Regions from separate parts of the Homo sapiens genome. Here region 1 is linked to region 2. Evidence: fine-mapped QTL for protein levels in blood plasma. A gene starts in region 2. The other region holds a variant in brackets. All regions are shown on one strand. Distances are from middle to middle.

Region 1 (15,584 bases), 230 kb before region 2:
AAACACACTTCAGGATATTATCTGGGAGAACTTCACCAACCTAGCAAGACAGGCCAACACTGAAATTCAGAAGACACAGAGAACAACCCAAAGATACTCCTCGAGAGGAGCAACCCCAAAACACATAATCATCAAATTTACCAAGGTTGAAATGAAGGAAAAAATGTTAAGAACAGCCAGAGAGAAAGGTCAGGTTACCCACAAAGGGAAGCCCATCAGACTAATAGTAGATCTCCCTGCAGAAACTTTACAAGCCAGAAGAGAGTGGGAGCCAATATTCAACATTCCTAAAGAAAAGAATTTTCAACCCAGAATTTCATATCCAGCCAAACTAAGCTTCATAAGCAAAGGAGAAATAAAATCCTTGACAGACAGGCAAGTGCTGAGAGATTTTGTCACCACCAAGCCTGCCTTACAAGAGCTCCTGAAGGAAGCACTAAACATGGAAAGGAAAAACCGGTACCAGCCACTGCAAAACATACCAAACTGTAAAGAACATTCACACTATGAAGAAACTGCATCAACTAACATGCAAAACAATCAGCTAGCATCATAATGACAGGATCAAATTCACACATAACAATATTAACCTTAAATGTAAAGGGGCTAAATGCCCCCAATTAAAACACACGACTGGCAAATTGGATAAAGAGTCAAGACCCATCAATGTGCTGTTCAGATGAGATGGGTTCAGGAGACCCACCTCATGTGCAAAGACACAAATAGGCTCAAAATAAAGGGATGGAGGAATATTTACCAAGCAAATGGAAAACAAAACAAAAAAAAAGCAGAAGTTGCAATCCTAATCTCTGATAAAACAGACTTTAAACTAACAAAGATCAAAAGAGACAAAGAAGGCCATTACATAATGGTAGAGGGATCAATGCAGCAAGAAGAGTTAACTATCCAAAACATATATGCACCCAATACAGGAGCACCCAGATTCACAAAGCAAGTTCATAGAGACCTACAAAGAGACTTAGGCTCCTGCACAATAATAGTGGGAGACTTTAACACCCCACTGTCAATATTAGATCAACGAGACAGAAAATTAACAAGGATATTCAGGACTTGAACTCAGCTCTGGACCAAGTGGACCTAATAGCCATCTACAGAACTCTCCAGCCCAAATCAATAGAATATACATTCTTCTCAGCACCTCATCGCACTTATTCTAAAATTGACCACATAATTGAAAGTAAAACACTCCTAAGCAAAAGCAAAAGAATGGAAATCATAAGTCTCTCATACCACAGTGCAATCAAATTAGAACTCAGGATTAAGAAACTCACTCAAAACCGCACAACTACATGGAAACTGAACAACCTGCTCCTGAATGACACTGGGTAAATAACGAAATGAAGGCAGAAATAAAGATGTTCTTTGAAACCAATGAGAACAAAGACACAACATATCAGAATCTTTGGGACACATTTAAAGCAGTGTGTAGGGGGAAATTTATAGCACTAAATGCCCACAAGAGAAAGCAGGAAAGATCTAAAATTAACACCCTAACATCAAAGTTAAAAGAAGTAGAGAAGCAACAGCAAACAAATTCAAAAGCTAGCAGAAGACAAGAAATAACTAACGTCAGAGCAGAACTGAAGGCGATAGAGACAAAAAAACAACCTTCAAAAAATCAGTGAATCCAGGAGCTGGTTTTTGAAAAGATGAATAAAATAGATAGACCACTAGCCAGACTAATAAAGAAGAAAAGAGATAAGAATCAAATAGACACAATAAAAAATGATATAGGGGATACCACCACTGATCCCACAGAAATACAAACTACCATCAGAGAATACTATAAACACCTCTATGCAGATAAACTAGAAAATCTAGAAGAAATGGATAAATTCCTGGACACATACACCCTCCCAAGTCTAAACCAGGAAGAAGCTGAATCCCTGAATAAGCCAATAACAAGTTCTGAAATTTAGGCAGTAATTAATAGCCTACCAACCGAAAAAAGTCCAGGACCAGACAGATTCACAGCTGAATTCTACCAGAGGTACAAAGAGGAGCTGGTAACATTCCTTCTGAAACTATTCCAAACAATAGAAAAAGAGGGACTCCTCCTTCACTCATTTTATGAGGCCAGCATCATCCTGATACCAAAACCTGGCAGAAACACAACAAAAAAAGAAAATTTCAGGCCAATATCTCTGATGAACATCGATGCAAAAATCCTCAAGAAAATACTGGCAAACCGAATCCAGCAGCACATCAAAAAGTTTATCCACCAGGATCAAGTCGGCTTCATATCTGGGATGAAAGACTGGTTCAACATATGCAAATCAATAAACATAATCCATCACATAAACAGAACCAATGACAAAAATTACATGATTATCTCAATAGTTGCAGAAAAGGCCTTCGACAAAATTCAACACCCCTTCATGCTAAAAACTCTCAAACTAGGTATTGATGGAACGTATCTCAAAATAATAAGAGCTATTCATGATAAACCCACAGCCAGTATCATACTGAATGGGCAAAAACTGGAAGCATTCCCTTTGAAAACTGGCACAAGATAAGGATGCCCTCTCTCACCTCTCCTGTTCAACATAGTATTGGAAGTTCTGGCCAGGGCAATCTGGCAAGAGAAAGAAATGAAGGGCATTCAAATGGGAAGAGGGGAAGTCAAATTGTCTCTGTTTGCAGATGACATGATTGTATATTTAGAAAGCCCCATCACCTCAGCCCAAATTCTCCTTAAGCTGATAAGGAACCTCAGCAAAGTCTCAAGATACAAAATCAATGTGCAAAAATCACAAGCATTCCTGTACACCAATAACAGACAAATAGAGAGCCAAATCATGAATGAACTCCCATTCACAACTGTTACAAAGAGAATAAAATACCTAGGAATACAACTTACCTGGGATGTGAAGGACCTCTTCAAGGAGAACTACAAACCACTGCTCAAGGAAATAAAAGAGGACACAAACAAATGGAAAAACATTCCATGCTCATGGATAGGTAGAATCAATATCGTGAAAATGGCCATACTGCCCAAAGTAATTTATAGATTCAATGCTATCCCCATGAAGCTACCACTGACTTTCTTCACAGAACTGGAAAAAACTACTTTAAACTTCATATGGAACCAAAAAAGAGCCCGGATAGCCAAGACAATCCTGGACAAGAAGAACAAAGATGGAGGCATCATGCTACCTGACTTCAAACTATACTATGAGGCTACAGTAACCAAAACATCATGGTACTGGTACCAAAACAGAGATATAGACCAATGGAACAGAACAGAGGCCTCAGAAATAACACCACACATCTACAACCATCTGATCTTTGACAAATCTGACACAAACAAGCACTGGGTAAAATATTCCCTATTTAATAAATGGTGTTGGGAAAACTGGCTAGCCATATGCAGAAAACTGAAACTGGACCCCCCTTCCTCACACCTTATACAAAAATAAACTCAAGATGGATCAAAGACTTAAATGTAAGACCTATGACCATAAAAATCCTAGAAGGAAACCTGGGCAATACCATCCAGGACATAGGCATGGGCAAAGACTTCATGTCTAAAACACCAAAAGCAACGGCAACAAAAGCCAAAATTGACAAATGGGATCTAATTAAACTAAAGAGCTTCTGCATAGCAAAAGAAACTATCATCAGAGTCAACAGGCAACATACAAAATGAGAGAAAATTTTTGCAGTCTATCCATTTGACAAAGGGCTAATATCCAGAATCTACAAGAAACTTCAACAAATTTACAAGAAAAAAACAAACAACCCCATCAAAATTGGGCAAAGGATATGAACAGACACTTCTCAAGAGAAGACATTTATACAGCCAACAGACACATGAAAAAATGCTCATCATCACTCGTCATTAGAGAAATGCAAATCAAAACCACAATGAGATACCATCTCATGCCAGTTAGAATGACAATCATTAAAAAGTCAGGAACAACAGGTGCTGGAGAGGATGTGGAGAAATAGGAACACTTTTACACTGTTGGTGGGACTGTAAATTAGTTCAACCATTGTGGAAGACAGTATGGCAATTCCTTAAGGATCTAGAACTAGAAATATCATTTGACCCAGCAATCCCATTACTGGGTATATACTCAAAGGATTACAAATCATTCCACTATAAAGATGTATGCACACGTATGTTTATTGTGGCACTATTCCAATAGCAAAGACTTGGAACCAACCCAAATGTCCATCAATGATAAACTGGATAAAGAAAATGTGGCACATAGATACCATAGAATACTATGCAGCCATAAAAAAGGATGAGTTCCTGTCCTTTGCAGGGACATGGATGAAGCTAGAAACCATCAATCTCAGCAAATTAACACAGGAACAGAAAACCAAACACCGCATGTTCTCACTCATAAGTGGGAGTTGAACAATGAGAACACATGGACACAGGGAGTGGAACATCACACACTGGGCCTGTCGGGGGGTAGGGGGCTAGGGGAGGGATAACATTAGGAGAAATACCTAACGTAGGTGACGGGTTGATGGGTGCATCAAACCACCATGGCATGTGTATACCTATGTAACAAAACTGCACGTTCTACACATGTACCCCAGAACTTAAAGTACAATAAAAAAAGAAGAAAAAAAAAGAAAAACACTTTTGTGGCATAAGTAAAGTCATGGGAGAAAATATTTGGAAATTATTTATATCCAGAAATATAAAATTTTATATTTTATATAAATTTTAAAATAATTTGGAAATTATTTATATATTTATATATAAATACTGGAAAGTATTTATATCCAGAATATATAAAGAATTCTTACCCCTCGACAATAAAAAGACTCAATTTAAAACATGAGCAAAAAATCTGAATAGGGATTTCCCCAAAGGTGATATACAAATATTCAATAAGCACATGAAAAGATGCTTAATATCATTAGCCATTAGGGAAATGAAATAAAAATCCCAGTGAGATATCATTCCACACTCACTTAGATGGCTATAATGAAAAACACACAAATGTTGGCATCGATACGGAGAAATCAGTACTCTCATATACCGGGAATGGAAAATGGTATAGCTGGTTTGGAAAACAACCTGGTAGTTCTTCAAAGGGTTAAACAAAAGATGCAGCAATTCTATTCCCAGGGGTTTACCCAAGAGAAATGGAAACATATGTCCATGCAAAAACTTGTACGTGAATGTTCAGAGAAGCATTATACATAATAATTAAAAATGGTTTAAAATTTAGGTTGTTTTACCTAAATGTCCATCAAGTGATACATGGATAAATAAAATGTATTATATCCATAGAATGGAATTTTATTCAGTCATAAAAAGGAATAACGTACTGATACATGCTACAATGTGGATAAACCTTAAAATCTTTATGCTTAATGGAAAAAGCCAGTCACACGCAAAAAGCACACATGGTATGATTTCATTTATGTAAAATGTCCAGAATTTTACATTCAGGCAATCTGTAGAGACAGAAAGTAGATCAGTGGTTGCTGAGGACTAGGAGACAGGGAGGGAATACTAGTGGGTATTGTGTTTCTTTTTGGGGTAGTGATGATTGCAATAAAGCTTTAAAAAAAGGTGCTAGGCATATTACAATTATAAATTGGTATAAAGATTGATGCCATCACTACCTACACACACCCAATGTTGTCCTGGTTATTTCTGGTCTTCATTGATTACCATCTCCCAAGGCAAGACCCCTAAACATCTGCCTGCAGCAATGACACATTAGAAGCACTGCACACACGATTTGGTTCTTGTTTGCTGCTTTATATCATCTCATGCCTTCCAGTTCCTCTTCCCTTCTCCTAAACTTCAAAGTTATCAATTTTCTGACCAATATGATGTGCAATGGTAGATTTCTAAAGTTGTTTTAAGAAAAAGTCACTTTTTTCACTTGGCTTAATGTATCTCTCAGTTGACATACTGTGGCTTCTCATAGTAATTTCTATTCATGGCCCTGCTATTGAAAAATCAAAAATGTTTAAAAAAACAAACTTCTTTGGGTAGGTGCCAAATACAATTAAATATTCTATATCAACGTAACCAAAAACAGTGACTTACAGTGATTTCTATTCATGGCCCTGCTATTGAAAAGTCAAAGCTGTTTTAAAAACAGAATTCCTTGTATAGGGGCCAAAAAATTAAATATAAGTATATCAAAGTAACCCAAAACAGTAACTTACAGATGTAAATTAAGTCAGTAAGAATGAGATTCAAATCAAATGTGCCATTTGCCTGAAATGTCTTTCTATATGTCCCTCATATGCCTGTATATTTTAATAGAAATTTTATTACTCAAACATTTTATGAAAGAAGGTAAAACAATAAGGGAGTCTTCTGATCTAAAAATGCTTTTTCAGAATTTATAATAGATTTTCAGTTGCTTCTGATAATATAACTACAAAGTATACCAAAGGGTACAATTTCAATCTCTCTGTCCTGGGTGTGGTCTCTATGGCTCAATACAAGACCATTGTTTCTTCAGTCACTTTCAGGTGAAGCCTCAGAATTTTCCAGCTAGTTTTTCTCCATTTTAATTCAAGGGTAGTTAAGTGTCATCAGAGAAAAGGTTTGGGCCAACTAAGTCCTACTATGATGAACTTATCCTCACTTGGTAAACCAAGTCTTTATCTATTGCTTGATAGTTTAATTTCCATTAACCCCTCTGCCAACCATAAACATTTCAGGAAAACATTGGTAACCCCAAGAAACAGATGGGTTAGAGAGCAAAGGAGAAGCCTATTTTTAAAACAGGCAGATTTGAGTAATTTAGCTTCTTTTCCTTCCCTACCCCTGGTTATCATTGTCCTGTGCCCCTTATCAAACCCTCTTTAGAGTAAATGTATGCTTTTGATGCTCTATGGCCGTGGAAAGGTTTTCCTAATTCCAAAATGTCTATGATTTTCAGGACATTTCTGAGCATCTTTCTAAATGCTCAGAAGCATTTAGAAACAAGACCTTGTTTCCTCTATATTAGACTGTTTTAAAAAATTTTGTTATCAATCATATTTTGGATTGGTGGTATTTAGTCCAAATTCCAAATATTCGAGCCCATTGTCAGACCATGTGTCTCATTTTTCTATTCTTTTTTTTTTTTTTTTGAGATGGAGTCTTGAGTCTCTGTTGCCCTGGCTGGAGTGCAGTGGCACCATCTTGGCTCACCGCAACCTCTGCCTCCCGGGTTCAAGTGATTCTCCTGCCTCAGCTTCCCAAGTAACTAGGCACACGTCACCATGCCTGGCTAATTTTTGTATTTTTAGTAGAGACAGGGTTTCACCATGTTGGCCAGGCTGGTCTC[A/G]AACTCCTGACCTCTGGTGATCCACCCGCCTTGGCCTCCCAAAGTACTGGGATTACAGGCGTGGGACGCTACACCTGGCCATGTGTCTCATTTTTCTAATGCTTATCATATGTGGGCCAGTATAAACTAAGCCAGGGTTATAAACCCAAAACTGCAACACTAATAGAGTGATTCTGTTCTTGCTCATCTCACATAGTTAGTGGAAACAAAAAATAAGTATTGAAGATTTATATGGGATGGTGATCATTTTTAGTTAGTCTTGAGTTGCTACATAAAAGAGTGAAAAAAGAAAATTGATATGGTTTGGCTCTGTGTCCTCATCCAAATCTCATGTTGAATTATGATCTTCAGTCTTGGAGGAGGGGCCTGGTGGGAGGTGATTTTCCCCCTTGCTGTTCTCGTGATAGTGAGTGAGTTCTAATGAGTTCTGGTTGTTCAAAAGTGTGTAGCACCTCCTCCTTCACTCTCTCTCCTGCTCCACCATAGTAAAACCTGCTTGTTTCCCATTCGCCTCTGACATGATTGTAAGTTTCCTGAGGCTGCCCAGCCATGCTTTCTGTAAAGCCTGTGGAACCGTGACTCAATTAAAGCTCTTTTCTTCATAAATTACCCAGGTTCGGGTAGTTCTTTTTAGCAGTGCGGGAACAAACTAATTCAGAAAATTATTTTCCGCCATTTAACTTTAAACTCGATGATAAAGGCAGAGCAGAGACATAAAAACTGTCTTGGTATTTATGTAAGTTATGCTAAGTACATAATTATACTTTCACGTATTGATAGACATGTACTTTGAAGAACTATGGCTTGATAATTATGTTATAATGAAGTACAAAAACAAATAGAGAAAGTTGGCAGATTTACAACTTACTTCTATAAGTTATTCCTAACATGACCCATGAAGCCATATAATTGAAGTACAGCAGTTGCTCAAGAACAAAGTTATTCTCCTTTTCATCTCGAATACTCAGAATATGTGATTTTGGATCTGTTGAATAAAAAATAATCAATAATTTTAACAATTACTTATCTAGTACACTTCTATTTGATAAGTTTAAAACATTTTAGTTCTCAGTTTAATATACTTCAAAATATAAACAATATTGGACAATTAGAAACATATGTAAAATAAAATTATCCCATTGTACTAAAATTAATAGGTTAAGGAGTTTTCAAATGTTTTGATGTTAAATTTGGTCTTATGGTATAATAGAAAACTAGTAGCTGAGTAGAGAATTTAAAACATTGATTCACTTCACTTTCCCCTATTTAAAGGTAATTTTTCAGTTGGTATAAATCCACCCATAGTAATGATATACTGTCAAAGATTACGCTATAATAATTAGAACCTCTTAGATGAACTATAACAGGGGTTCCCAACCCCCGGGCCACACACTGGTACTGTTAGGAACCAGGCCTGTTAGGAACCGGGCCTGTTAGGAACCGGGCCATACAGCAGGAGGTGAGCAGCAGGCAAGCGAGCATCACCGCTTGAGCTCTGCCTCCTGTTAGAGCACTGTGGCATTAGATTGACAGAGGAGTGCAAACCCTCTTGTGAACTATGCATGCGAGGGATATAGCTTACATACTCCTTATGAGAATCTAACTAAGGTCTGATGATCTGAGGTGGAACAGTTTCATCCTGAAACCATCCACCCCTCCCTGTCAGTGCCAAAAAGGTTGGGGACTGCTGGGCTATACGACAGATCTTCCTTTTCCTTAGTTTTCAGTATGAGGGTTAAAAAGGCTTAATATTTCCCAAAGGGTGTTCCTCACAAAATTAACAAGGAAGTTTCAGAAAAGATCTACATGGATTTTAAAAAAAGTTTGCAAACATTGGTTTAAACAAAATTAAACTAGTTTATGCCAGTATTTCTTAAGGCATATGTTAATGTACATTTGTTAATGTCCAACAGGAAGCTATGGTGTCTAGTGTTTCTCAACCTTTTTCTTTTTTGTTGGTTATTTTTTTCAACCTTATTCTAAGGACTTTTTGCAGACCATCTCTCAAGACTGATGTTATACGGAGCATGCTTTGGGAAATACTGGTTTGATATTTTCTATAGCAACTTTCACTAAGTTCATTGTTCCATTGGTTCCAACAGTTCCATCATTTGGAAGTCACAAATCCTTAGTGGATCTCATAGGAATTATCTGAAGACTCTTGAGAGCTGAAAATGTGAAATGTGCACTTCTTTAAGCTTAGCTGCTGCCTTGTGGTGTATCTAAGCTTTTGACTGCTCCAACTAACTTATTTTCACTTCCCCATAGCCTAGCTTGATTTAATGTCCAGTTCTCTGCTCTCTTGTGTGTCATTTCTTTCCCCCTTCCTTTTTTTTTTTTTTTTTGGAGATAGGGTCACCTGTTATCCAGGCTGGAGTGCAGGTGGTTCAATCACAGCTCACTGCACCTTCAACCTCTTGGGTTCAAAGATCCTCCCTCCTTAGCCTCCCAAGTAGCTAGAATTACAGGCATGTGCCACCATGCTTTTAATTTTTTGCAGACAGAAAGTCTCACTATGTTGCCCAGGCTGGTCTTGAATGGTTGGCATCAAACAATCCTCCCACTTCAGCCTTCCAAAGAACTAGGATTACAGGCATGAGCCAGTGTGCCTAGCCCATTTCTTTTCCTTTTAAAGGAGAACCTGCCTTCCTTACAAACATAGACTAGTTCTTGAATGGAAGAGTAAAGAAAGGAGTTATGCCTATACTTTCCATTTTAACTAACACAAATTTTAATACTTTGTCACTGATAATGTAGATATTAGGAGATGAATATTTTTGTCATCTAGTTACTAGTGCTAATTAGAAATATTTATAACACAGGAAATATTTTTTTAATTAGCAAAATACAATAAGTAATGACAGTATAATATACTTGATATGGTTTGGCTGTTTCCCCATCCAAATCCCATGTTGAATTGTAGCTCCCATAATCCCCACATGTCATGGGAGGGACCTGGTGGGAGGTAATTGAATCTTGAGGGTGGGTTTTTCCCGTGCTGTTCTCGTGATAGTAAGTCTTATGAGATCTGATGGTTTTACAAAGGGCAGTTTCCCTGCACATGCTCTCTTGCCTGCTGCCATGTAAACATGTCTTTGCTTCTCCTTTGCCTTCTGCCATGATTGTGAGGCCTCCCCAGCCATGTGGAACTGTGAGGCCATTAAACCTCTTTTTCTTTATAAATTACCTAGCCTCGGGTATGTCCTTATAGCAACATGAGAATGGACTAATATAATACTTACTCAGTTTCTGGCATTTAGTATGAACTTCATCCTGTGTTGTTGCCATATGCCTATTCTTTGTTATTATGAAATTGTAGCAACAGTTCTGAAATGGTATCCACGGAGTATTTAGAACAGGAGATGGACATTTAACACTGTCAACTGGTTTGACCTCTTTTTCAGTCTCATCTAGAAAAAGAGTTAATGGTAAGAATTCTAATTTGAGATATAAATGTTAAATCCTGTTTGCAGTCATTAGGCTTGATTTGTAGGAAATATTCAGGAAGCCGAGAAGTAATATCCTGGTGAAGCCTGTCTCTGTTTATACTCAGATATAGCACACAAAAAGCCAGCTTTCTATAGGAAGGAAATTACTTGACACAATTTTCTTACCCCTGCTGTGGCATGGAAGAATGTAAAAAATGAGGTGCTATTAGGTTAAATGCAGTTTCTGTCTTCCTGCATTACCAAATGTCAAGTACAAGGGACCACCCCTAGAGATGCTGTACAAACATATTCATTATTAAAAGTCACCTAACTATAACTCTGAGAATTTATTTTAAAGTTTCTGTCTACTGATACTATTAATTTTAAAGGAACATTTAAATGAAACATTGATGTTCTAAATAAGTTATTGCTTTAACCAAGTCAAACAAAAATAATATTTAAAATCTGACATCTACAGTATCTGATTATGATCTTTTTCCATTTTATGAAAAGGCCATACATTCACAAAGATACAAATATAAACATATTCCACTCAAATACATTAAACTGATTTAATATGTGGCAGAGATCACTCAGTATCTCTCCTGGATCACAATAAGTCCCTTTGTCCATGAAGCAGTGTCTTCTTTCTACCACAGACCCACAAATGTGACCTTGCCAGTTGTAAAAACACTTTCCTCTGACTGGGCTAGAGACTGCACACCTGACTCAGGCTAAGTTCATGAGATGTTCTCTAGGGATTTACAAAGTGAAATTTAGAAATTGTCAACTCATCTCCAGTTATAGGTTCAGCTCTATCCCCGTTTTGGGGATCCTAAATTTCCCCTTGTCTTAAGCTAGCTTGAGGTGGTTGCTGTGAATCTTAAGACTCATAAAAGTCCTGTTAGTTGTGATATTATGAATCACAAAAGAATTCTCACAAATGTAAGCTTTCTACAACTATAAATATATGCAGAAAGAGGTAGAGTAACAATGGGATTTTAAGTGTTAATCCCCATTGTCAGCTGACATAAAAATAAAACATGCCTAAAATGACCCATTAATAATAATATATGTAATATATAATTCTACTTGAATACAAATTTTCACAACAAATGTTGCCATAAAAAGACATGACTATAATTTCTTCACAATTCCAAAACCAGATTTTATAAAACCACTCCTCAGAAATTCTACCACTTATGGGACTGTTAATAATTTAAGAATTAAAAGATCTGAAATTCACATACTTCCTGAATAGTAGCAAATAGCACCTGGTTGATTGTCATTGCAATCAACTGTTTTCCAGAATCCATCAGTGTCTAATACTACACAGTCTTCGAGTTGCCCATTAGTTTCAGCCCAGCGACTAAAATGAAGACGTTTCCCATCTGACCAACCAAAGTTGAGTTCATCCTGTAAGGAGCAGAAGTACATTTCAGGTGGCAATATTGATGTTAACCCTTTGTATTATTTTGACTCCCATGGTCAATCTAATGATTTTTAATTTTTTTAATATTTAATACACATTTACATACCATTTACTACATAACAAGCATTGTTCTAAATGCTTTACAAATATTGGCTTACTTAATCCTTGTAACAACCATATAGGAGAGGTACTATTATTATCTCCATTTTAAAGATGAGGAAACTAAAGGTATGTAACTTGTGCAAAGTCCCACAGAATACAAACCACAGTGCTGGGCCTTTCTGCCAGGCTGTCGATCCCCAGAGTCTATGTCCTAACCATTATGCTACGCTGCCTCACACATAATTGGATCCACTGGTTATCAGAAATCAGAAAGCTAAAATGGGGTGAGGATCACTATAAGTACTGATTAGATCAGAGACCACCTGGCATAGTGGAAAGAATATGGGCTACGGAGCTAAACCTACATGGTTTTGAATCCTGATTCAGTCACTTACTAGCTTTCATGTGCCATCTCTCCAAATTTCCATCCCCTACCAAGTTAAGTGTGACACTTAACTTCGTGGGGCTGGAATTAATGGGATAACATGTGTAAAGCCCGCAACCCAGGGGCTAGCTGGCACACAGAGAGCTGGTGGTTCCCTTCCTCTGAACTCTTCAGGCGCTGTGGCTCTCACATCACTGTTTTCACACTTGTTGGGGAGAGAAGCTTCTTCATTCACTAGATTCTGTTGTGTGCTAGAGGTCTGTGAACGTCTGCCTTTACACCCTGCCAAGGTCCTGACCACCCATCTAGGTACAGGAGATGGATTGTGGGGTACAGGCCTGTCTGAGCTTCCCCATGGTGCTGCCAGAGACCTTACATACCCACTGGTGGGCCTGGTGCTGGCCTAACAGACCCACTGAGCTAAGCTTTCCTGAGTCCCAAGACAATCTGCATCACTAGTTTATTTGAAATATGGAACGAAGCGACACAGTCTCCTTAGTAAACCATAAACAGCAACACAGTCAAGCCTCAACACCACTCGCTGCTTCATTCTGAAATGTTCATGACCAGAGTTCCAGCTGTAATCCTAGCCCCTAACCTAACCCAGTTAGGGCCTAAGCCACTGTGGCCTCCAGTGTGGCCCTTCGGCCATGCGACTTTGCCTGCACTCATTCAGACTGCCCTGCATTTCTTCCCCTTTGCTGCACTCCCCACCTAACCCTGTCCCTGATCCTTTGGAATTTCCATTCCATCTAAATAAATCATCCCACACCTTTTATCTTTTTACTGAATACAAAGTATGAAGACTATAAATATCTTTTCACTAAATTCTTGATCTTAATTGATCTTAATTTAACTCTGGCTTTTCCAGGGAATGCTCACACATTGTTGGTGGGATTATAAATTAGTTCAGCCCCTGCGGAAAGTAGTTTGGAGATTTCCCAAAAAACAAAAATAGAATTACCATTCAACCCAGCAATCCCATTACTGGGTATATACCCAGAGGAAAACAAATCGTTCTACCAAAATACACCTGCGCTCATATGTTTATTGTAGCACTATTCACAACAGCAAAGACAGGGAATCAATCTAGATGTCCATCAGCAGTGGATTGGATCAAGAAGATGTAGCACATATACATGATGGCATACTGTGCAGCCATAAAAAAGAACGAAATCATCTCCTTTACAGCAACATGGATGTAGCTGGAGGACATTATCCTAAGTAAATTAATGCAGGAACAGAAGACCAAATACCACATGTTCTCACTTATATAAGTGGGAGCTAAATATTGGGTACACATGGATGTAAAGATGGGCATGATATTGTCTGGGGACTCCAAAAGTGGGGAGGGAGTGGAGCAAGGGTTGAAACACTACCTATTGGGTACTGTGTTCACTATTTGGGTGACAGGTTCAACTGAAGCCCAAGCCTCAGCATCCCACAGTGTATGTATTGTAACAATCCTGCATGTGTACCCCCTGAATCTTAAATAAATACATAAATCTGGCTTTTCCAAGGGAATAATCTCCTTTCAGCACCCACAGGGGAAGACTATTTGATATTCTATTCTCAGATACCACAGGACTATGAGAAAGGAGTAGTGGATATTTTTATCTCCTTTTATTTCCTTTCAGGATTATTCCCCTTGTATCACTGCAAACTCCCCATGACATTCACTGAGGACTTGGTCGCCTTGCTCCTCCCTGACATTCACTAAGATGTCCCAATTCTTGCTGTCCTCCCGGTCCTACCATTAACTTGGGATGCCTGTGTTCATGTTTCCAAGCCTTCTTGACTTCCTTTAATTCTATGTATTTTTATTTCTTCAAGCTGGGTACTTGAGTGACCCACTGCATGGCCACACTCTGCACTTCACATAACCCAGAGCTGCCTCTCCTCAGACACTGTAAACGCCAACAGCATTTCCTGCATGAATTTATAGAAAAATAACTGCTCTCCCTCTCTCCAGCTGCTTGCGTCCTCCCCGGCCTTCCACACAGTGTCGTCTACTTAAGTAAAGTCTTATATTGCCACTACTCTGTTTAAAATCTTTCAATATCTTCTCATTGCTTTCAATGTAAAGTATTTATTAACATCCTGTCATTTTCAAAGAATTAAGGCAGCTATTAGGATATATAGTTAAACAGCTACACAGAATATGTTAAAATTAAGGGTGAAAGGGAAAAGAGAACCATAGGTAAAGGTTGAAAATAGGATAAGAAGTAAGACCCAAATCATTAAGTGGGGAGGGGAGTTACAAAATAGTCTGATTCCAACTGTCTAAAAAATAAATAGGTACACATAGAAAAATAACTTGAAAGATCCATACCAAAATATTGATTGAATCATGTTTATTTTTAGGTACTGGCATTACAGGTGACTTTAATTTTGTTCTTTTAATTACTGACAAATTTTCTACATTGCAATACTGTTTTTGTCTCAAAAGATTTAGGGTGACTGAAACTAGGAAATGTAATCACCTATTGTTTCCTCACAACAGACACAACAAAGCGTTTCACAGAATTTCCAATGCTGAAGATAAAGCAAGTAAATGCAATGCTATAAAACAATTGAGACTGTGAGGACTGAGTAAGCAGCTTCCCCATCTCCTGGCTTGCTCTGGGTTAATTTAATTTAATTAATTAATTAATTTTTTTATTTAGAGATGGAGTCTCACTCTGTCGCCCAGGCTGGAATGCAGTGGTATAATCTCGGCTCACTGCAACCTCCACCTCCCAGGTTCAAGTGATTCTGGTGCCTCAGCCTTCTGAGTAGCTGGGGTTACAGACGCCCGCCATGATACCCAGCTAATTTTTGTATTTTTAGTAGAGACAGGGTTTCACCATGTTGGCCAGGCTGGTCCCAAACTCCTGACCTCAAGTGATCCACCCACTTTGGCCTCCCAAAGTGCTGGGATTACAGGCATGAGCCACCATGCCCGGCCGATC
Region 2 (15,584 bases):
AGCTTCCATACAGATGACCCAACACTCTGACTCGATGCTTTCCCCACTGCAGGTTGTGGCCCATTTATGGTCTTGAAATCAACTGAATGTGTTATGACCAGCGAGACAAAACGAAACAGAATGGAACAGGGGGAAATGTAGCAGCATGTCATATTAGGTAAGGGTATTTTTTAAAAAATGAAACATTGTTTCAGTTATACATATGTAGACCTATATGCTGTGGGTTGTGATGTAAAATGTATTTCTTATTGTGGTTTGCTGACAAAAGAGTCCCAAACTCTACTCGACTTTAGCTTTGCTCTGGACATTGGGCTCCCTGACCTCCTCTGCTGTGAGGACCTTCTTTTGCCTCTTCTTCACTTTGGTGACCACTCCCACAAACACAGCTTGGATCTGGTCACTACCAAGAATAGGTCCATCTCCAAAACTTGGATTTTGCACTCTATAACCACTACCTCTCCTATTCTGCAATCTTCCCTCATCTAACTTTCACTAACTGTTTTCTTTTGTTGTTGTTTTTAAATATATATTTTCCTCTTTTTAAACCCTGTTTCTTGAACCCAAACTTTCTGCTCCTCAATCTTCCTATTGGGACTGACTTAGCTCAGCTTTAACTATCCAGACGGTTTCTTTGCTGCCTTCCAGAATTACCCTCTTCAAGGTGATAGGAGACCCTCTTCAAGTCCCAGACTGAACATGGCACTTCTAAACTTAAACATGCAATCTGGTTCCCCTTTGTGCAAACCCACAGGGCCCTTCTCAGCAGTACCCAATTCACTCAGCCAGACTTTTTCCAGAAGCAGGGTGCCTCCAACCAAACTCTTCCTCATCTCTCTCATGCTTCCAACTATAGACATGTCACTGCTTCTTGTTTTGCCTGGGACCCTACTCTGGTGGTCTATACCATCCACAGCCCTGGATGAAGCAGCATCCATCCCTGTGTCCACCTCCTGCCTCTACCATGGCCAATTAGCCAGGGGAAGGCCTTCGACTTGAGGGCAGAGCACAGGAACTAGCTAGCATGCTGTGAAGAATGTAACCAGACCCCTCTCCTAGGAAATTAAGGGACTCTTCCCAGGAAGCTAAGGGAGCTACAGAGGAAAGTCCTACTAGTCAAAGCCAAAGAAACAGTCAACAGAAAGAACAACCAAGCAGGAACCACCATAGAGCCCCAGAGACAGAGAGAAACAGATAAAGTAATGCTTCATGTCAGTGGCCAGTGCCTGTTTCCCAGGAGGCCTGGCTGCCCTGAAGAACCTGTCCTGGGTCCCCCTTGAGATCCTGGGACCATTACAACCAACTCCACGTTTGCCTGAGTGACCTTCAGTGGGCCTCTTTCCTTGAATCCAAAAGAGCTCAGAAGGGAACTTTCAGCTCACTGAACTTTTACTGTTGCCTGACACGTGATCCTGGGCCTTTGCACATGAAATACATGTTCCCAGGAATGCTCAGTCTCCTTTTTCCTATATGGTAACTGCCTACTTATCCTTTAGGAAAACAAATGTCTTTTTATGAGCCTCCAGCTCCCCAGGCCAGTGCCTCCTCTGCATGCCTTCAGCACTTTGCTCATCCCTGGTTATCATAAGACCTCTCTCACTGTTTTGTAATTGTTTATGTTTCTGTATCTGTCCCTGGACTCTCAGCCTCTTGGGGCCAGTGTCATATCCTACTCATGTTTTTACCTCCCCAATCTGGAGGTGGGTAGCAGATTCTGTTGGTTTCCTTCTCACACCCTCTAACCTGGAGCTCACTCACCTGCAGACAGTCCTCGTGCACTCCCACTGACTTTCTGTGGCTCTCTGCCTGGGAGAGACCAGGAGCACCAGGGGGTGAATGCCCCAGGAGTGACCTTAGTCAATAAGAGGCGGGAGTTGGTGGATAAATACTTCAGCTTCCTGCCCGTTGGTGGGTCCACTGAGTTCTATACAGTTCCTCAAAGGGTCCTTTGTGAAACTGAGCCCCAGTGGTCTGTGGTGGCTTTCTTCCCTCTCTGGTCTCATGTCCTCACTCCCTTACCATGCTTTCTAGAATCACCTCCAAAAAAAAAAACTACTTGCACCCTAAGGAAAACATGTCTCAGGAATTGCTTTTGGATGAACCCAACTAAAACAGGTAGATAAAGCACATATTGCCTGACAGATAATGAACAACTGAGGCCATCAGCCCCTACCCCTCTTTCCGTCGGCGCAGCATGTCGAGAGACACCCCGTACACCCAACCCTGTTTCACTTTCTTCTCCCCAGATAGGACCTGATGGCAAGCACACTGACCACACACTCATCTGCACCCTCACCTCCTTTGATCACTGGTCATTTAGAAGAGCCTCCCCTGAGTGTCCCCAGGCACTGACACAGACTTAGGTTCTTTCCACTCCTGCTCTGGGAAGCTGAGCACTACAGAAGGAAACTCTCCTACGATATATTAGTGGGGGACCATTTCACATTTATCATTTTTCAACCCTCAACAAAGCTTCAAAACCCTTTTACTTGCCCCCTGATCATTTCCTTTAGCAATGACTATGCCCAGTTTTCACCAGGATGCTCCATCCCCTTCTTCTTTCTCCCCGCTGTCCACTTTGTATCTGGAGTACTTGAGTGAGTGAAGTTAGTGTGTCTTAGCACTTGCTAGAAGAAGGGCTCAGATTCTGATCAGGGAAAACAAACTAAAATCAGGCTCCTTGGAATAACCAGCTAGAGCAAAGGTCCCCCACCTTTTCTGCCCCAGGCACTGGTTTCACAGAAGACAAATTTTCCACAGGCCAATGGGGTGGTGGGGTGGGGGATGGTTTTGGGATGACTCAAGTGCATTACATTTATTGTGCACTTTACTTCTATTATTATTACATTGTAATATATAATGAAGTAATTATACAGCTCACCATAATGTAGAATCAGTGGGAGCCCTGAGTCTGTTTTCCTGCAACTAGACGGTCCCATCTGGGGTGACGGGAGACAGTGACAGATCATCAGGCATTAGATTATCATAAGGAGCTCGCAACCTAGATCTCTCACATGCACAGTTCACAATAGGGTTTATGCTCCTTTGAGAATCTAATGCCACCACTGGTCTGACAGGAGGTGGAGCTCAGACAGTAATGTGAGGGAAGGGGAGCAGCTGTAAATACAGATGAAGCCTCTTTTGTTCACTGTTGCTCACCTTCTGTTGTGTGGCCCAGTTCCTAACAGGCCACAAACTGGTAGGTGGCCTGGAGGTTGGGGATGCCTGAGCTAGAGGTAGGAGGAGATGAGTTTCAGACCTGCCAAGTACAGTGCTGTGCACCGTAGTAAGTAATTGTTATGGGGCTGTCAACCTGTCAAAATGTCTGGATTGGCCAGAGGAAGAGGGTGCCATGGTGAGAGAGCAGCAAAAGGACAACACTTAGATGTGTACTATTACTAGCTCCATTTTACAGATGAGGAAACTGAGCTACTGACTGGCAAAATACCTGTCCAGGGTCACACGGATGGTAAATGGCATAGTCAGGATTTGAACTCAGATCGTCTAGCTCTGAAGCCCGAGAACTTAACTACTATATAATACTGTATCTACTGACTTTTGAATACAGAATTGTATTACTCCATTTTCACACTGCTGAAAAAGACATACCCAAGACTGGGAAGAAAAAGAGGTTTAGTTGGACTCACAGTTCAACATGGCTGGGGAGTCCTCAGAATCATGGTGGGAGGCGAAAGGCACTTCTTACGTGGCAGCGGCAAGAGAAAGATAAGGAAGAAGCAAAAGCAGAAACCCTTAATAAACCCATCAGAGGTTGTGAGACTTATTCACTATCACGAGAATAGCATGGGAAAGATTGGCTCCCATAATTCAATTACCTCCCCCTGGGTCCCTCCCACAACACGTGGGAATTCTGGGAGATACAATTCAAGTTGAGATTTGGGTGGGGGCATAGCCAAACCATATCAAGAATTATTGATAAATCATTGGAAAATCATCACAGTACAATCCATCATCTGCCTCCCAAGGCTGGCATGCTTGTAATACATATCAGATCTACAAATAATACATATCAAACAATTCAGATAAAAAATGCTGTATGTATAATCTGCTGTGCATTATTACATAGCCATTATTAGTGGATTGGAAATGAAAATGAGTGTGCATTTTTCTCTCAGTTGCTCTGTGGATGTCAATCGTGGCTAAAGTGAGTCAATGTGGTACAGTGAACACAGCGGTAAACTGAGGCACCCCAAAGCATGGCTAACTACATGGTAGCCATACCTCAACTTCCACATCTGAAGAATAGAGGGCTAGAGTAGACAATGTCTCAGGTTCTTTTCAATGTTAAGATTTTGTTTTTCCATTTTGTATTGACAGTAAAAACTTGACTTCAAACCTGTCCAGCTTACACTTGAAATTCTACTCATGCAGGTGACTGGAGTCAGGGAGAGAGCCTGTGCCTGTGCGAGGAATGGTACATAACCTCCGTGCTCCTTGGAAAATCAGCAGCAGCATTTTCATATCTGAAGAATCTCTATGCCAACTATGTCAACCTTTTCAGATGTGCAAATTGCACCTAGTAGGTACAAGGGCTAGCAGATGGCTCTAATTTCAGAGTGCCCTTGACTACTAAAAAGAAGGCACTGATGAGAATTTGTCTCAGGCCAGTATTTGGTTCTGCTACATATAGAAGGGATTAGCCCTTCACTCGGAGGATCACCAGCACATACTCTCTGTGTGGCCCAGTCCAACTTCTGTCCTGTGGGCTGCTGCCCTGTTCTACCACCTAGTGCCCAGGCAAAACCCACATTTTAAAATGCAAAGGAATAACCACTGCATGGTAAACTTAGTGGGAAGGAATCATACATACTACAGGATCAGATGTGCATCCACAGGAGCAATTTTCTGAATTGACCAAGAAGGTAAGAGCATCTCTGACTTTGGTCACTTTAGAATAAGAATGGTCTTGTTCTACCTGCCCCTGATTAAGCCTCCAGGGAGCTTAGGAAACACAGTCTAGAAAAGACTACCTCAAAAATGTAGACATATTCTACTGTGGAGGAAAAAATGTGAACGCAGATATTGATCACATCTTGTGTTACCCCTTCTCTCCAAACTTATCTCCAAAGGCAGAGAGGATGGAGGCTGTCTGGAGGCTCCTCCTGGCATATTTAACTCCCTCCTGTCCCCCTCCTACTTGCATATATGGACTTCTGCACTTAGGCGCAGGCTTCTCTGCCTGAGGTGGCCCATTCTCAAATGCGGGCCCCTGCAGGCCAGAAATCTCTCCTCCCTCTCTTTACACAACCTTCTGAGTCTCATGTGTAGTAGGTGCTCAATAAGTGTTTGCTGAATTGAACCCCGTTTTTCCACTGAGAGAGACTAAGGCATAAAGGCTTCAGATCACGCAGTTCATGGAGCCACTGGGGCTTCTCTCCCTCACCTGGCCTGATGTTTTCAGGCGGGGTGCGGTGGGTCAGGCCTGTAATCCCAGAACTTTGGGAGGACGAGGTGGGCGGATCACTTGGGCCCAGGAGTTGGAGACCAGCCTGGGCAACATGGTGAAACTCCGTCTCCACCAAAAATACAAAAATTTTGCTGGGCGTGCGGGCGCACACCTGTGGTCCCAGCTACTCGGGAGGCTGAGGTGGGAGGATCGCTTGACCCCGGGAGGCGGAGGCTGCAGTGAGCCGAGATCCCGCCATTACACTACAGCCTGGGCGACAGAGCAAGACCCTGTCTCAAAAAACAAACAAACAAAAAAAGTTTTCCTTAAGGAAGGGATGGACTGGGGAGGCCTGGCTTGGGGGTCACTCCTAGGTGGCGACGCAGACCCTGAGCGCTTGCTTTGCAAGGGGACGAACTGAGCCATCTTTTTGCTATCATTTATCCGTCCCAAATAAGCAGCTCTCAGAAAGTTTCCGTTTTGAAACTTCTCCGACACTCCTATCCCGGGCTGGCTCCGGGCGCCAGAGCCGAGAGGAGTTACCTGCGAGACCAAGCCCCCCCGCCCCCGCCGCCCGACCCCCGCAGGAGCCAGGAGGGTGCCGGGCCGCGCAAGTGGGGTGCTGGGCCTAGACAAGAGGCTGCAGGACACCACCCGCTCCCCCCATGCTCAGGACTGCTGACACACGAACCCCTACAAACGCGGCCGCCCTTGCCCGCCAGCTTGGCCCCTAGCTTCGCCCCTTCTTCCTCTCCTTCGACCACCCCGACCCCCCTCCCCAACGTACCGATCCAGTCCCCGACCCTGGGAGACTCACCCTGCCACTCCAGGAGCCGCTCGGGGGTAAGCGCCGCCGCCACACCCTCGGCGCAGCCCCGCGGCGCCCCCAGCAGCAGCAGCAGCAGCAGCGACGGCGACAGCAGCATCGCTAACCACTGGGCTCTCCGGGAGCCCCTTGTCCCGGGAGCCCCTTATCCCGGGAGCCCAGAGCCGCGTCCCAAGCACCCGGCCCCGCCGCGCGGAAGCGGATCCGTAGCCTCCTCCGCGCCCCACCCCCTCCGGGGGCCTTGCCAGCCCAGAGCCCTGGAGACCCACTCCGCCACCGCTGTCTCCACAGTGAACCGACACTCGGGGCTCTGGGCTGGGATGCGGGAAAGTCGCGGAGGTTTTCCTCGCCCCACCCACTGCGGCTTGGGGAAGGAGGAGGAGGAGGGGTGGGCCATCTGCCCATCCCAGAAATTCCTGCCTTTGGGGTGGGGACAGGCGGAGTGAGGCTGCTCGGGTCACACTCTCCGCTCCTCTAGCTTGCAGCCCTGCTCTCTCCTTTCTGGGGGAGGCCGAAGAGGAGTTGTGGGTGAGCGATTTGAGAATCTCCGGGACAAGGAGCCTGACATCCGGGTTTGCAAACCACCTGGATTCTGGTAAACACCGCGGATTTGCAGCGGGCAGCCTAGAGTGAACCCAGCTGCTCCGCGACGCAGGCGCTTTGGGAGGGTCCTGGACTCCTTTGACTTGTGGAGCACTGGAGACACCTGAGGGGCCACGCCGTGGTCTCCACCTTCCTTGCCCCAGAGTAACCCGGAGATTCTTCTATTCAGCTCCTTCGGTTTTGAAATAACCTCCTCTTTCCAACTCCTTTGATCCCCCAAGCCCCGCAAAGTAGCCGGGGTCCCTATTATCCCATTTTTACAGCTGAGAAACCCTGCCCAGAAAGTCGAAGTGCTTTGCTCTAGGTTACTTCCTAATCCAGCAAAAGTTACTCTCTAGCAAGTAGGACAGCCCTGGCTAGAATGTAGTCGTTCTAACTGTCCTCCTTCAAATAACCAGCAGAACACTGGAAGCGTTTAATATTCTGAGAACAGGCTCATATAAGACCTTTCCTCAGCGGGACCTTGACATTAGTCATTAAAACATAAGAGAGGGGGAGGGGAGGGGCAGAAAGCAGAGCCTGGAAGGAAATGCCTAGCAGGGAGCAAGATTGAAGGTCAGAGCCAAATGGGGAAGAAGGGAAAGTGGTTGCCTTGGCCATGGCCTTAACAAAAGGTGCTCAGTCCTGCAGGAACCTCAGAGAGCCTCAGAACTGTCTGTCGAGGACAAAAGGGGCAAGCGTTTATCCATGGACTTTATCCTTCCCTGTTGGTAAGGGAGATCCTAGGGTTATTAACTCCTCTGCACTGTTCTACAGCAGTGGTGAGTTTCAGTCATGGTCCCATACCTTGTCTCTTAGAAGCCCTGGGTGCATAGCATGGCAAAAGGTGAGGCGCTGTCAGGTTGTTTCTCAGAGGGTTGGGGGGTGGGGGACAGCCGGGGGAAACAGGCTGCAGAGGGGGCTGGAATAAGAGGTGGGTTGAGAGGATGTGAGAGGTTCCAATGTGTGTAGAGTTTATAACATATCATTACATGTAGAATTCAGCATCCTTGCTTGAAAACATGCAGAAAAGAGATGCTTTAAGCCTAGTAGATTACACAGACTTCAGCCACAAACTATGTATCCATCTCTCCTATGGCCTCAGAACTACATTGCTATGGGAATATCCCCGTAGTATTATGATAGAAGATTTGGCCCTGCCCGAGCAGGCTGGCATGTATTGCAGCAGGCAAGTGCAATGCACATGACATAATTAGGTCATAAAACAGGACACTGATGCTAATCTCTGGTGAGGTCCAGGGCAGTGAGAGTAAAGGGGAGAGAGACTAGGCTGGAGTGGGCATAGAGGCCTAACTATGCTCAGATAGTATGGTGGGTATTGGGAGGAAGAGGCTGTTCTAGGATGGGAAGAAATTGTGAAAAAAAAAATTATACAAAGGTTGGAGTGAGAACTGCTTGTATGGGAGAGAGTGAGGCATGCCTGGCTGAAATAAAGGCAGCCACTGGGGCACCCTGACGAATGAGGACAGTTGCTGGGACATTGGGCTACCTCTCACTGGCTGTGGACCAGGGTGAGTTATTCACGTGCTATGGTCCTGTTTTAGTCTCTGTATAATGAGGGGGGAAAATGCCTCCCTTGACCCATAGCAGATGCTATTCTGAAGTAGCAGAGCTAGGTCTGTGAGTAGGATAAGAAGGGAGAAACAAACCTTATTTCATCTTCAGAGCAATTAGTATAATGAAGAGAGGTGTTGACAGCTTCCTGGCCTACCAACCCCGTATTTTCTATTCAACCATTAGAACACTCAGAAAAGAGCTACTTTTTCTTTTTTTAAAAAAAATCTCTTCCTGAAACACTGCAGCTTTGAAATGGAAATCTGTGGTAAAGGGCTTTTTAACCTTCAAGAAAATGACCAGCACCCATATCCTGGGCTCACGTGTGTTTCAGGTTCATGAGGCAGTGTAGGGTCATGGTTAAATGAGGCAGCTCTGCCACTTACCAGCACACCACTTAGTTTGCCCCAGCCTCAGTTTCCTTCTGTGTAAAATGGAGATAATAATGTTTGCTTCATTGTGTGGTTGCATTAAATGAGCTAATGTATGCAGAGTGCTAGCACAGTGCTAACACACTGTAAAGTTCACCTCTGGGAGCTGTGGGTGTGTGGGGAGGGAGTGAGGAGCAGAGAGCAAGAGCAAAGGAGAGCTCAGAAGCCATGCTACAGAGCACTGTGCTAGTGGTAATTATGGCTCTGGACTTCAGCTGGGGAACACAGCAGGGAGGGCTCAGTGCCTGCTGGCCTTTGTACAGCTTCCCATTGCTTCCCTTCTCCTTTGGAGTTGGAATTCATTATTTATATCTCTCACCTGAATGTGAGTTCCAGGGCAGCACACTTCCTGGCACTTAGTCATCTCTCAGTCTCTGCTGAATGAGCGAAGGAATGAGGGAGGAAAAGAAAGAGGTTGAAAGAAATGAAGTCAGTCTTCACTTAACGTCATCTATAGGTTCTTAGAGACTATGATTTTAAGCAAAATGGCATATAATGAAACCAATTTTCTTTTTCTCATCAATGTCATAATGAAATCACAGTGAAGGAAATAATGTTGTTTGAGGACCTGCTGTATGTCATTTCACTTAAAATTGCAGTTTCCAAGAACCTGTCCATGGTGTTAAGTGAAGACTTACTGTACAGTGTGTGGAGTGATTTGAAACTTGAGAAAAATATTAAAACTTTGAATGGTATTGACAGTAAAGAAAATGGGATTTAAAACTCAATGTATAGGTTGCGGTTTGTCAAAATTAACAAAACTTTTTGAGCACTGTATGAATCAGGGTATCAGCAAGAAAGGGTGAGGTCCTGGTTTGTTGAATGTTTACCCAAGGGACTGTGAACCCCCAAAATTTGAGATGGGCCTCAGTTAATTTAGAAAGTTTATTTTGCCAAGGTTGAGGACACACACCCGTGACACAGCCTCAGGAGGTCCTGATGACCTGTGCCTAAGGTGTTCAGAGCACAGTTTGGTTTTATACATTTTAGGGAGACATGAGACATCAATCAATGTATGTATGATGAACATTGGTTTGGTCTGGAAAGGCGGGACAACTTGAAGTGGAGAGCGGGGCTTCCAGGTCATAGGTAGATAAGTGACAAGTGGTTGCATTCTTTCAAGTTTCTGATTAGCCTCTCCAAAGCAGGCAATCAGATATGCGTTTATCTTGGTGAGAAGTCTTTGAATAGAATGGGAGGCAGGTTTGCTATAAGCAGTTCCCAGTTTGACTTTTCCCTTTAGCTTAATGATTTGGGGGGCCCAAGATATTTTTCTTTCGCATTTCCCCCCTTTTCTTTTGAAAAATCTTTTGAAGGCCGAGCATGGTGGCTCACACCTGTAATCACAGCATTAAGGGAGCCTGAGGCACGTGGATCACCTGAGGTCAGGAGTTCAAGACCAGCCTAGCTAACATGGTGAAACCTCGTCTCTACTAAAGATACAAAAATTAGCTGGGTGTGGTGGTGCACGCCTGTAATCCTAGCTACTCAGGAGGCCGAGGCAAGAGAATCGCTTGAACCTGAGAGGCAGAGATTGCAGTGAGCTGAGATCATGCCACTGCACTCCAGCCTGCATGATAGGTGCATTCTCTGTCTCAAAAAAATAAATCGTTTGGAGCAAATTAGTCTCTGGTTCCAGGTTTAGTCTTTTATCTGATATCTCATGGCTAGGATGATTTATTCCTAGACAGGTAGGTCCTGAGTTATTAGGAAAGCTCATTTTTAGAAAGTTGTAAAGTCTCATGTCCTATGAAGAGAAAATAGGGGGAGGAAGGGAGAACAACAACAATAAACAAAAGAAATATTTTGGAAAATCAATGTAGACCACATTACTCTGAAGTCCATACATCAGTAGGCAGGTATGAAAGTGGCTTATGTATGTAAATAGGTTTTGCTGTTATTTTCTTCTGAAGTTCAAGTTGTCTAGTTTCAGTTTGCAGAGCTTTACAAAAGCACAGCTTTGTTTTCAGTGACTCCAAATTAGGAAAAATGGGGGGAAAAGGAAAAAAAATTAAAAACATTATTTTGAAAACTTATAGCCAAAAAAAATTAGAATTCAGTCCAAACTGTAGAAAATAATAAAACTGAAAAACATCAGACAAGACTAGAATCTAACAACAGGTGTACTACAGTTTTTGAAACATAATTTTTCTCTCTCCAGTTTCCCATTTTTAAAGACAAATCATGGTAGGACTGATTTGCTTTATTATACTTATCCTAATTATTTGCATACTGTGCAGCAAGAATAATTATTTTTTTACATAGGCTTTTAAATTGTCTTTGGTGGGACTTTATTCCATAGAAGGAATCTCAGATAAGACTTTTTTAAAGCCGAGCCCAGCCGTGAATTTGTGCCACCTAATACCTGTGAATTGGGTGATCCTTTCCTCTTGAGGTTCCAAGATAAACTTGGAGCTCCTGGGCCTGTCAGAAAGTAACATTCTTTACTTACCACAGGTCAGGAACCCTGTACAGGGAAGGTATGAGACCAGTTTCCCCAAGGGCTTTTATTGACTCCATAAGTCAAGTTTGATTCCTTAAAGGAAAGCACACCATTAAAGCCTTGGTAAAATAACCAATGTCTCCAATTGCGTCCTGTTGCAAAATGAAAACAGATTCTTATTGCAGTTATGCAAATAACTGTATTGCCATAAGTTAAGAATACTCACAGATAGTTTCCAAATTCTGGAGAAATCAGGTAGAGGGAAACAGATATGCTCCAAATTGTGTTCATAGGAGTATACTAAATTGTTAAAGCTGTCAATAGCTCAAAAGAAAAGTTTCCTTGACTCTGAAAAAAGCAGAACAAAGGATCAGCAACATTTAAAGCAAAAATCAAAAAATTAGTCTTCTATCAGTTCAGTTTACATAGTTAACTCCTGTTCTGCTTGATATTCATGAACATTTTAGCTCTCCATGAGAGTCCTGAAAGTTTTTCCTCTATTCTAATGTCACAATCTCCAAAGTTATCAGAAACCGGCATTTAAGAACACCTGTTAGACTTTTATAGCAGATTAGAAAACCACCTCCTAAAGAGGACCAAAACAAGACAACAATTGTCTGTGGATGACAAAAAATTTTAGGGCAGCCATGGTCAAAGACACAATTGACAAGGAAATTTGTTACATCTGTGGCACACAATAATTTAACATAACAATTATAAGTATTACTGATAATATACAGTAAGTCATATCAGAATTATAGGAGTTCCCATGATTTTGGAACAGATACCATATATTTATATAAATACAGCCTAAAGAAAACCAAACACCATTTCATCTTTGACAATGTTTCCTGTATAATATTTATACCAGACAAACCAAACTATGTCATCTTTGAACTTTAAGGAACTTAATATCTTAAAGGATTGATTAGGTTAGAAAAAGACATAATTTATAATTTGATTTTGGAAAGTTCATCAAATATCAAAGGTTTAAAGCCCTTGATATCACAAAATAAGATCATTCATTTAACCAAAGTGATAACTCAAGGATTTAAAAAGGCAAAAACCTTCATTCTTTGAGAAAGGAGACTTGACATTCCAAACAATAAGCTCTAATAAAAACAGCATGAAGCCAATTAAATTTGTTTTTTGAAATTTTATAAATGATCTATAAAATTTTAATCTTGACCGTAAGATACAACTTCCATAAGCCTTTTATAACCTTTATTGAGGAGTCAGTTAATGCTTCAAGAAAACCTTGTTAATTTGACAAAGGGGCCAATATGCTAGTCTTGCATCACTGCGCCTTTAACATTAATTATTACTTTTTAGAGAAACTGAACTTATTTTATCTTTCAAAATCAGCCCTTAGAATCTCACATGCCCACCTTTTCCATGATAGTTCCTGGGCCTTGAGTTGAAATAGCTTTAATTTCTGGTCCTGTGTCTTAGGAATGCAGTTTATTTTGATTGGCATCTCCTACAGGGCCTGAAAATGGGGCTTTAATTGCTGTCAGTGTTTAAAATGTAGTAGGAGTTGTTGTCCTTTTTAGACCCAGGAGTCAAAGCCCTGTAACTCAGTGTCACAAGTATTTTAAAAGTGCATATGGAGAGATGAAAGATAGATGGATGTAATAACCTTAATTAAAAAATTTTAATCTCAGTTTTTTTCCTAAGCAACCCAAAACTTAAATAATAATATGACAACTTGATCATATAAAAGTTTTTGGTTTTTAAAAAAATAAATCCTCTTATTGTGACTTACATAGACCATTCATGACATGCTTGTACTTTCTGGTTTGTTTTGAACATCCCTCTTTCTTAAGCAACTAGTCATTTTACTCTAGGACTAAATTTACCATACGAGATTCTTTCTCATATGAAATTATTTCCCTTTACGCTTTCTCACAAAAAAACCCCTCTTTATTTTAATAACTTTCTGTACATCTCTTTTATTTCCTGGTTCCTTTTACCTTGTTTTATACATGACCTTTAAATAAGCTTTGAATTAGATAAAAATTGTTCACCTTTTTTTTTAAAGGACACATTTGTTTTGAATGTTTTCCTACAAATATATTTTTATTGGAAAATACCCAAATAATAAAATATATGTGATTTAATTTGATATAACTTTAGATTCTAAATTATGATGAGCTTGTCTACAAGTATTTATCCTATTATATTTACCTAATAATTTTTTTGTCATTTACTTAGAGTATTTACAAAAACCGTGATTGTCATTATTTAAAGTTACAGAACCACCATTGCGAAATTGTAACTGAGAGAGTGGAAAAGATTTGACCTGACTGACTCCATCTTACTTCTAACCTCCAAACTGTTCTGTTCATTCCTGGGCATAGGTCAAACTAACTTTGGGAGGAACTTAGTTGATAGTTTAGCTTTAAAACAAAGACTGTGACAGTCCTTTCCCAAAACAAACCTTACTGCCTGTAGAATGGACCACCTAAAGCCACAAGATTAGAAGATATGGTAATCGTACTAAATTCAAGATGTAGAATTTTTTATTAAACCAATATCAATATCTTATTAAAGATTACTCAAGCAAAGGTCTTTCTGATTTGGGCTGGGTGTATAGTTTTATAACCCCTATGCCAATTTTTGACAACTTATAGTATTTGGCAGGGAAAAATATGAAATTGCCTGATTTATAAATGCAAACAAAAACGTATGCTGGCAATTCTTAAGACATTTCTAACAATACTTTACCAATAATTGTAAAGCTAACTTATTAAAGATTTTACTTAAGTTACATAAGCTTGAAAAAGCATTTGACTAGTCTTTTCTTTTATCCTGATAAAGTATTTGATTCAAGTGCTTTTATTTTCTTAACCCAATTAATTAGAGGTTTTTTATATATTTTCAGTAGTGAAACATTGTGTACACAACAAATAAATACAAAGACATATTAGGCATGCTGATAGAAATACATCTTATAGATTCATAAAAACCTTTTTTTTTCTATCTTACACTTTCAGATTCTAGATAAACTGTTTCACAGCCCTAGGCAGTTGTCAGCTAAATAGCCTTAAATTTGCATTTAAAGGAAACAACCCAGGTGAAAACCAAATAGCAAAATTTATGTCATAAGGTACAGAGAGAAAATATCTGGTGGTCCTAGAGGGATATTAAAGATGGATGCCAAATCAGACAAAAAATTATAGAAATCTATCACAGGATTGTATAAGAGGACCAATTTTGTCTACATAGGGACTACCTATCTTTTAACAGGATCTCTGAGCTCTGGGCAAAGCTCACACTGAATCCTGGGTCTCCAAAAAGGAAGAATTATTATGAGTTTAGACCATGTGATGCTTTTACAGTGCACTTAAAAAAATTTTTTTTTAAATAAAGACATTTCCAAGTGTCTGAACAAACCACACTCTTCCTTAAAAAACCAAGAGTAACCTCTGCTGCAACAACTATTTTAGGCAAAACACACACACACACACAAAACAACCCAAACAAACAAACAAACAAACAGGAAACACAATACAAAAGTAAGCAGTTTAAGAGCTGAGACAAACTTGTCTGTTTTCATTCTTGTGATTCCATAAGGCAAAACAGGTTTCTCCCCTAAAGGGAGCCTGCTACCTTCTCTATTTTCTTTATGGAGCCCCACACTGCTATAAACTGTTTTAGGTACCCCATACAGCAGAGAGTGCAAAAGAAAGGAGAGACAACAGAAGTAAATGAAGAAAACAGAATTCAGGCAACTGAGAAGAAAAAACTTTTGCTCAAAAACAGACAAAGTCCTAGGAGAAAAACAAGAAGAAAAACATGAAGGCATTTTAAATACAAACACACACATATGCACACATACACACACACACACACACACACACACACACACCTTGGATGTTAGCTTTCAATTAAGCTGACTTTTAACCATTGAGCTTCTTTAAAAAAAATCTTTTTAAGTTCCATTACCATATTTCAGCTAGAACAAATTGCTGCAATTTCAGAAGTATCGCTATTGCTGTTTCAGTTTGGCCTGGCTAGCAAATAAGTGGTCTTGTTATGTAAGTAAAGCCACTTAGTAGTCAAAATCGAAAATCTTTCCTCTTTTTTTCCCTTTGCTGATCATTTTTCTCCCCTCTACCACACCACCTTTTTTTATATTTGTGGGAATTTAGCCACTTCAGAAGCCTTGTTCCCCATAATTTAGAACTTTCATTGGATTTGATCAAGTCAGAGTTGATCAAACCCAGTGGGAAAAAGACCCAACAATGAAAACAGAACCAAACAACCCACCCCCCAAAAAAAAACAGTTAAGCAAAACAAACCATTGTACAACTTATGTGA

The links. PIP is the posterior inclusion probability: the model's chance that the variant is causal. Protein levels are from the aptamer-based SomaScan assay of Sun 2018.
Region 1: its variant is fine-mapped to the plasma level of the PLA2R1 protein (Sun 2018, PIP 0.95).

The regions. Positions count from the first base shown.
Region 1 is chr2:159,823,516-159,839,099 of GRCh38, forward strand. LY75-CD302 (LY75-CD302 readthrough) reads right to left here. Exons shown (of 38, transcript NM_001198760.1): 26 at 11,965-12,130; 27 at 10,529-10,696; 28 at 8,155-8,271. It overlaps LY75 (lymphocyte antigen 75), which reads right to left. Exons shown (of 35, transcript NM_002349.4): 26 at 11,965-12,130; 27 at 10,529-10,696; 28 at 8,155-8,271. Among named protein-coding and RNA genes, the nearest start is that of CD302, 33 kb to the left of the region's middle. The variant A/G (reference allele first, on the strand shown) is at 7,287.
Region 2 is chr2:160,056,074-160,071,657 of GRCh38, forward strand. It overlaps PLA2R1 (phospholipase A2 receptor 1), which reads right to left and starts at 6,542. Exons shown (of 30, transcript NM_007366.5): 1 at 6,222-6,542. The coding sequence starts at 6,330. LOC105373717 (a long non-coding RNA gene) reads left to right here. Exons shown (of 3, transcript XR_007087274.1): 2 at 53-157; 3 at 4,390-4,728.